2 separate regions of the Homo sapiens genome follow, and region 1 is linked to region 2. The links come from fine-mapping of genetic effects on gene expression. A gene starts in region 2. The other region holds a variant in brackets. All regions are shown on one strand. Distances are from middle to middle. Region 1 has its middle 23 kb from the start of AXIN2. Region 2 holds the start of AXIN2 (axin 2).

Region 1 (4,375 bases), 23 kb after region 2:
AGGCTCTTGGCCAGATCTGCGGACTTGAAAGGCACAGCAGAATGGCCTCAAATGTTCTTCCTCCTGGATAAAATGCACACAACCACGCTTACCTGTCTATTAGCGGACTTTCTTCCTATTTGCCTGAAATGTGGATTGCTGAACAGAAGAGGCCCAGGATGAAGTGGGAGAGAGGGACCGAGGAGAAAAATGGGAGGAGTATGGACTCTTCTGGTTTTTTTTTTGAGATGGAGTCTCGCTCTGCCGCCTGGGCTAGAGTGCAATGGTGCAATCTCAGCTCACTGCAACCTCCACCTCCTGGGTTCAAGCGATTCTCCTGCTTCAGCCTCCCGAGTAGCTGGGATTACAGGTGCCTGCCACCACACCTGGCTAATTTTTTGTATTTTTGAGTAGAGATGGGGTTTCACTATGTAGGCCAGGCTGGTCTCGAACTCCTGACCTCGTGATCCACCTGCTTCAGCCTCCCAAAGTGCTGGGATTACAGGCGTGAGCCACCGAGCCCGGCCATCTTCTTAAAGTCTAGCTTAGCGCACCCACCAAGCCTAGTGCACCCACCACCATCTCCCTCCAGGCAGACAGGTTTGATGCATCCCAAAGAAAACTGGCTTTGGTGACCTCAAGTCTGGGCCCATATCCCAACTTCAGCATTTAAAAGCTGTGTAAGGCAGTGGCTCACCTGTAATCCCAGCACTTTGGGAGGCCGAGGCAGGAGGATTGCTTGAGCCCAAGAGTTCGAGACCAGCCTGGGCAACATAGCCCCATCTCTACAAAAAAAATTAAAAATTAGCCAGGCATGAAAGCTTGCACCTGTGGTCCCAGCTACTTGAGAGGCTGAGGCTGGAGGATCGCTTGAGCCTGGGAAGTCAAGGCTGTAGTGAGTTGTGATAGCGCCACTGTACTCCAGCCTGAGCGACAGTATGAGACCCTGTCTCAAACAAAACAAACCCAACTCTGTGAGCTTGAGCAAATTTCTTTTTTCTGATTTTTTTTTTTTTTTTTTTTTGAGACGGAGTCTCGCTCTATCACCCAGGCTGGAGTGCAATGGCATGATCTTGGCTCACTGCAACCTCTGCCTCCCGGGTTCAAATGATTCTCCTGTCTCAGCCTCCTGAGTAGCTGGGATTACAGGTGTCTGACACCACAACTTGCTAATTTTTGTGTGTTTTTAGTAGAGATGGGGTTTCACCAGGTTGGCCAGGATGGTTTCGAACTCCTGACCTCAGGTGATCCTCTTGCCTCAGCCTCCCAGCTGTAATCCTCAGCTGGGATTACAGGTGTGAGCTACCACACCTGGCCTAGCTTGAGCAAATTTCTCACCCTTCCTGGGCTTCACTTTTCCCAGTTGCAAAATGGGAATAAGCCGTTCTGTTACGGGAAGGATAAAAGGAGAAATGGACATAAAGGTCCATGCATACCGCAAGTGACTTTCTTCATCTTAGGGAGTCAGACTGTGGCTGCCTTCCCCTCCCGCTCCCCTCTGGCTTCCTCCTGGGAATATGTCCCTCCCAGGAGGCTGGTGGGGGCTGGGCAGTCACCCCAGGCTAGGGGGGCATCCACCTTGCAAACCCTTCCATAGCAGACTGACTGCTTGCTTTGCAGACTGTCAACGGGCAGCGCAGTCCGGGCCCAGGGAAGGGCTAGTGGCAGCTGCAGCTCTGCGACCAGGCTTGGAAACACGTGTCAAACCCTATTCCAACCAGATGAGGCTGGCCTGCTTCCAATGGCCGCTTTCCATCCAAGGTCTGGCCAAGGGGAGCTTTGCCCAGATCCCCTCCACAGGCAGCCCAGGCAGCAAGTCCTATTTGTTCCCCTGAGTCCTCGGGTCCAGACTGACAAGCTCACCTCTCTATTCCGGAGGCTCTGTTCAGAAGGTCCAAGCCATGAGTCATGCAGCCCTGCACTGCTGGGGAAGGTGGGAAGGGTAGGTGCAGGCTCCAGGGCACACAGCAACTGGAAGAAGCCATCTGCCCATCCTGTAGGTATGGTCCTCTCCCTGACAAGGCTGGTCCTCTCCCTGACAGGCAGGGGAAGGAGCTGGGTAAAAGAAGAGGACGAAGAGATGCTCTCCAACCACCACAACATGGGGCAAACATAGGCCTCCTCCAGCGAAGGGAAATATCCCATATGCAGCAGATGGGCCTGAGGCAGGTGGCCAGAGAGCCAGTGACTTCTCTTTTTGCTGCTTAGAAATGGTGGCTGAAAAAAACACACATGCCACCACCACCCAAAAAAACTAGAGAATGCAGCATACCAGCAAAGAGTCACAGAAGGAAAGGAAATCCAAATGTTTTGAGTTTAGCTATTAAGCATAGTTTCCAGCGAGTGTACTCATGTCTTGAAATGAAACAGATGAAAGCAACATGTGTCAATGGTTGTAGGAAGGCAATAATGTCATCAACAGGAAATAAAGAAATTGAACACTGAAGCCTCAGCCCAGAACTTAACTCTTCTCTTGCCCAGGTCCCCAAGGCTTTCTGCATGAAGACTGAGGACACTTCCTGCAAGACTAGGTCACTGCCTCTCTCCACCTGCCTGGAAGGTCCTTGAGGCACC[C/T]CCTGCAAGGATCACGAGCACCTGAGAAGGACTTGCTTTGTTTCTTAAGGGATGTGGCCTTGGAAGAAAGGGAACCCCAAGGGACCCTGGCCCAGCTGAAGAGGAAGCTGCACAGCCTCTCTCTCCATGAAGAGGCTACAAAGCCTTGGCTGTGGGATCACAGTTCCTGGCAGGGACAGTGCTGGCTGCTGGAAGAGCCAGCAAAGCCAAGGCCAACGTGCTGGCACTAAAAGGGCTGGTGGCGCCACCAGGAAGTCCCGCAGGCCCCAGGAGGCTCTGATTGCTGCTCAGGGCCCAGAAGCTAGGAGATCCCTTCTTAGCCAACCCCCCAACCCGAGGCAGAATGCAGAGCGCATACACGGGCCCCTCTGGCCGATCCAAGAGAACCTCAGGAAGAGCAGGGACTTTGGGCCTTGGAAGGTGAGGCTAACGTTCACATGCCTTGAGAGTGGCCGGGATGACTCTTGCAGGCCAGTCTCGCTGGTTGCTTTTATCTCTGATGAATCCACCCTATTTGGCTTTGGGGGTGCCTGACTCACTGTTGACATTGTATGTCACTTGCAAACAATTCATAAAACTTAAATATCAAACAGATCACACTGGATCAAATAGATCAAACAGATCAAGTGGGATCTTGGAGTGAGAGCATTCATGAGTTCAGTTTCAGACCTGGCCTTAGAGCTTTTAGGTCCAGGGGTGCTAGACAGCACCATGGGCTGCACCTGTTCTCTGCATCAGAGTCCTGGGGGAGGTCTACACAAAGCCGGATTCCAGAGCTTTTCTCTGGAGACTCAGGAGGTCAGGCTGAGGGGTCAGCAGCTTAGCCCAGTGATTTTTAGACCACCCTGGATCAAGATAGCCTAAAACAATGGATGTAATTGTCATTACATACAGGTAAAATTAATGGACAGAAATGCCTCAATTCTTTCTCCCATAATTAAGAAAAACCAACCCTAAAAAATATTTGGTAGGTCTTGACACTGAATTCTAGAACAGGATCTTTGGTATTTGCCCAGAAATGTACATTTGGGTTTACTGTACCCATGTGCATTAGTCAGCTTGGGCTGCCATAGCAAAACACCATACACTGGGTGGTTAAATCACAGATATTTACTTCTCACAGTTCTGGAGGCTGGAAGTCCAAGATGAAGATGCTGACGTCTTTGGTTCCTGGTGAGGGCTCTCTTTCTGGCTTGCAGAGGGCTGCCTTCTGGCTATGTCCTGCTATGGCTGAGAGACAGAGAGAGAGCAAGCTCTCTGGCATCTCTTTTTTTTTTTTTTTTTTTAGATGCAGTCTCACTCTTATTGCCCAGGCTGGAGTGCAGTGGCACGATCTCAGCTCACTGTAGCCTCTGCCTCCTGGGTTCCAGCGATTGCCCTGCCTCAGCCTCCCCAGTAGCTGAGATTACAGGCACACGCCACCACGCCCGGCTAATTTTTGTATTGTATTTTTAGTAGAGATGGGGTTTCACCATGTTGGCCAGGCTGGTGTCAAACTCCTGACCTCAGGTGATCAGCCTGCCTCAGCCTCCCTAAGTGCTGGGATTACAGACGTGAGCCACTGTGCCTGGCCTTTGTGTCTCCTCTTATAGGGGCACTAATCCCACCATGAGGGCCCCATCCTCATGACCTCATCTGAACCTAATCACCTCCCAAAGGCCCCATCTCTGAATATTGGGGGTCAGGGCATCAACATGGGAATTTTGGGGAGACAGATTGGGTCCATAGCACCATGTTTCATGGAGCTCCTCTGGGAGCATCACCAGGTTGTTCTGACCCACATGTCAGGTGCCTGCCAGGTGGGCACTGGCTTAGACTCGGG
Region 2 (4,375 bases):
CCCGCGCCTCGCCTTCCCTCCCTTCCCCTCCCCCGATACCATCAACTCCAAAAAGGCGCACTCCCAGCCGCTAGGCTGTGTGCAGGTGAAACCAATTTCGGTATATTTCCCCACTCGGCCCTGCACAGATAACTCGAGCTCCAAACGTGCCCTTCCCCGGCATCTGGTTCCCATTCTCCCCACCCACCCCCTCCCTCTGCGCTCCCTCTTCCCACTCCTTAAAAATTCAGAAGATCCTGGCCCAAGAGAAGCCCGCCCAGCATAGGCGGATTGGGCTCCCGGACTCCCAGATTCAGCACGCAAACACCCCCTCCCCAACTCAGATTTGAGTGTTCGCTACGCGCCCCCTACCCCCACCAAGAATCCAGCTCAGTCAACACCTCTGTCTTCCCTGACCTCCCCCCAAACCAGAAACCAACTCACTCAGGGGAGACTTTCATCTTCAAACTTTGAGAGAGAGCTGAGAAGCCTCGGAACCGTCGCCCCCGTGCCCCCAACCCACCTCCCGGATCCGCGAAACCTACAAAACTGGATCACCAGCCGTCTCACGCCACTACTGCCTGTGCCAAGAATCCCAAACTCTACTGATTTCAAGCCTGTCTTTTTTCCAAAGAAAAAAGTCTTATCTAACCAATAAACAAGCTGCTTTCCCTAGCACGGAAAAGATCAAACTAAGAAGGGTAGGGGCTGAACGGGGTGCAACCCCGGGCGAGAAGCCAGGGACCCCGGATCTGGGATGGGTGCACGCTGAACCCGACCAGAGCCTCGAGCCGCGGGGCTGGGCGGCGCGGCCCACGGAGAAGTGGGGCTGCCGTTGGCACCGCGCTACCCGGGCGGTGGGAGGTGGAGCGGCCCCGTTACCTGGAAGACGAAGGCCGCCGAAGCCAGGCTCTCATGTCCTCCGAGCCCCTCCGGCCCGGTCCCCCGGCCCAAATGCAACTGAACGCCTCCAGAGCCCTGGCGGGCACACCTCGAGGCCGGAACCCCGGGACACGCCAGCAGCGCCCCGAGCCCGGGCGGGGGGTCGGTCCCCGGCGCCGCCGTTTGCAGAGGCGCCCGCAGAAAAAGCACAGAAAGCAGCAGCCTAGTCCAGAAATGGCGACGCGCGGAGTCTCTGCCTCTCCGCAAAAGGGGCCGGGGCGGCCACGGGCGAGGGGCCCGGGCCGGGAGGAGGGACGCGAGGGACACGGGCGCCCCGGACTTGGGCCGGTCCTGCGCGCAGACTGAGCCTCCGCCAGCGCTGTGGGCCCCTTAGCGCGGACCCGCGGCAGGGAGGGGAAAAGGGGAGGGGGAAGAGAAGTAGGAGGAGAGGATGGGGCGGAGGAGAGGCGGGGGGCGGGGGAGGGCAAGCGGGGGGCGCCGCTACCCTTTCATCCCACCTCCCAAAGGCACTCCCGCGCGCACTCACACGCCGACTCACATCCATAACCGCGACAGCGACGCGACCCCCGGGGGGTATCTGCCCCCTCTCCGCCCCCGCCACTGCCGCCACTCGGATAAGTCTCCTCTCTGGGCCCCCCGCCAACCCGGTCACCGCGCTGGGGAGGGGGCTCCGGCGCAGGGCGCGCAAGGCTGCCCGGCCAAGCCCCCCGGAACGCTGGGCGCCGGGTCCGCCGCTCCCCTCCGCGCCGGCCCCTAGCGCGCCCCGAAATAGCCGGCCTGCCAACTTCAAAGGGCCGCCCCGCACATCAAAGCGCGCGGTCCGCCCGGCCGCCTCGGCCTCGGCACTCACCATTGATCCCCGCGCGCGCTCGGCGGCGAGACCTCGCAGGCGCCCCTGGCAGGGGCCCGGCCCCGGCCCCCGGCTCGGCTCGCGGCGGCAGCCCCGGGCCCCCCCGGGCCGGCCGCGGCGTCGGGGAACATGGGGAGTCGTGCGGCGGGGGAGGGGGTGCGGGAAACAACAATCCCGGGTTCAGAGCGAAAGCCACCGGCCGGGGAGGGGGAACGGCGCGCCCCGCCGCCCCTTTTATGCAAAAGATCCGAGCGGGCCTCCGCCCCCGCCCGGCCCGGCTTTCAACGCAGGTCCTGTTTCCAGCAGTCACTCGGCGCACCAAATGTCCTCCGGGCGCTTCCAACAAAAACTGCGCTGTGGATTTAACTGTGCACTTCAAAGGCGCGAGCCGAGCGCACGGTCCTGAAAGGGAGGTACGCGCCGGCCGCGCCCCGGGCCGCCCCCCGCAGCCCCGCCACCGCTCCGCAGGGCCGCCCCGCCCGCGCCCCCCTCCAGGCCCGGCCTCCGCCTGGCCGGGCCCCCTCCCGCCCCCCGCGCCCACGCCGCGGCTCGGCGCGACCTCGCCCCCTGTAAGAGGGGGGCTTTCTTTGAAGCGGCTCCGCTGGGGCCGAGCTTCCACCCCCACCTTTTACAGCAGGGCCTTCGGCGGGCGCCTCGGCCGCCGGGCGGCCCCGAAATCCATCGCTCTGAGGGGTTATTTTTATTTCCCGGCTCTCGGGCTGTTACTGAGTTGCCAGGACCTTATCAAAGCGCAGCCGGCTCCAGCCGACTCCCCCGGGCCAGGCTCGCGGAGCCAGTGATCCCGCCGCGCCAATCACAGCCGCGCTCGGCCGGCCCGCGCCGCCCGCCTTAAAGGGACAGCGCCCCGCGCCCGCCCCGCCCCGCCCCGGCCCGCCCCCGCCGCACGCTCCGCTCCCGCGTTAACCCTTCCCCGGCCTCTCCTCCGCCCCCTGCCAGCCCCCCGCGGCCCCGAGGGCATTCTCAGCCCGAGTTCTGATTTCTTCTTTTAAGTTCTCCGGCCTCTTTGCTCCCGCCTCCTCCCCCTGCCTGCCCTCGCTCTCCCCGGCTCTGGAATGCAACAGTTTCTGGTAGCATTATGGCCATCGCAAGAACTGCAAGCAAGCAGATTTTTTTTTTTCTATCATCAAACGCTTTTCTACCTCTATTCAAGTTTCCCTGGGAATTTGGGCTTGGAGGACTTTATAAAGGGAGTTCCGGCCCTGGGGTTGGCTGGCCCGCTGTCATAGGGCGGACTCGGGCCCAGCCGCTGGAGGCGTGTGCATGCCTGTGCGCGCTTGTGCACGTGCATCTGAGTTCGGGTAAATATAGGACTGCAGTTGGTGGATGAATTGCGTTTGTGCATGTGTGAAAGTGGGGTGTGAATCCGCCAGTATAGGCCTGAGTGCTAACACCAGTTAGGAGGCATACCTCAGTGCCCTGAAGACCTAGGTCCAGCTTCCTAACCTGCTGGCCATAAGACCCTCGTAGCGGCACACATTGGCCATCTCTCCCAAACAACTGCATACCCGTTACTCTTCCAAAGTCCCCTCTTCTGCCATATGTTACATATTAAACCGATAGGAATATCTTTTTTCCCACTCCAAACGACAAGGCATGCATGCCGTTTTAATGTATCGAAAACTCCTCACCCCATTGTCACCTTTGAATTTCTCCCACATTTGCCCAAAAACGTTTATAAGGCACACACAACCTTCTCTTCTCCGTTAAAATGAGAAAATATGTCACAAACCCAGAGCATTGTGTATTTATTCTGCTGCTGCTATAGAATGATTCCTTATGTTATGAGCGAATAATTAACTTTTCTTCCTTTTAAAAAACAAAGGGCCGGGGACGGTGGCTCATGCCTGTAATCCCAGCATTTTGGGAGGCCCATGCTGGAGGATCATCTGAGGTCAGGAGTTCGAGACCAGCCTGCCTAATATGGCGAAACCCCGTCTCTACTAAAAATACAAAAATCAGCCGGGTGTGGTGGCACGTGCCTGTAGTCCCAGCTACTCGGGAGGCTGAGGCAGGAGAATCGCTTGAACCTAGGAGACGGGGGTGGGGGGGTTGCAGTGAGCCAAGATGGCACCACTGCACGCCAGGCTGGGTGACAAAGCGAGACTCCCTCAAAAAAAAAAAAAAAAAACACACACACACACACACATAAAGGTGTGAACCAAAGAGATCCAAGAAGTGAAAGGCAGAGTCCTGGCCTCAGAGCTGTGCAAGGCTCTTACTCTCCAACTTAATGGATGACGAGCCCTTTTAAATGCGAGATGGCCTGTCATTAGGCCTTCAGAACTTTAAAACATGCAAGAATTGTGGCTCTATCTAGGTATCCATAGAAAAAGAGAAGGAAGAGGCTGGGTGTGGTGGCTCACCCGTGTAATCCCAGCACTTCGGGAGGCCAAGGCAGGCGGATCACCTGAGGTCAGGCATTCGAGACCAGCCTGGCCAACATAGTGAAACCCTGTCCCTACTAAAACTACAAATATTAGCCAGGCGTGGTGGGGGGCGCCTGTAGTCCCAGCTACTCGGGAGGCTGAGGCAGGAGAATCATTTAAACACAGGAGGTTAAGGTTGCAGTGAGCCTGGGCGACAGAGCAAGACTCCATCTCAAAAAAAAAAAAGAAAAGAAAA

Evidence for each region. PIP is the estimated chance that this variant, and not a neighbour inherited with it, causes the effect. A credible set is the group of variants that fine-mapping cannot tell apart.
Region 1: its variant is the best candidate, but not a certain one, in a credible set for the expression of AXIN2 in whole blood (INTERVAL, PIP 0.50).

What each region holds. Positions count from the first base shown.
Region 1 is chr17:65,582,370-65,586,744 of GRCh38, forward strand. No RefSeq gene overlaps it. Among named protein-coding and RNA genes, the nearest start is that of AXIN2, 23 kb to the left of the region's middle. RefSeq lists an enhancer at 1,131-1,665. The variant C/T (reference allele first, on the strand shown) is at 2,554.
Region 2 is chr17:65,559,093-65,563,467 of GRCh38, forward strand. AXIN2 (axin 2) reads right to left here and starts at 2,556. Exons shown (of 11, transcript NM_004655.4): 1 at 2,358-2,556. RefSeq lists a silencer at 2,570-2,719.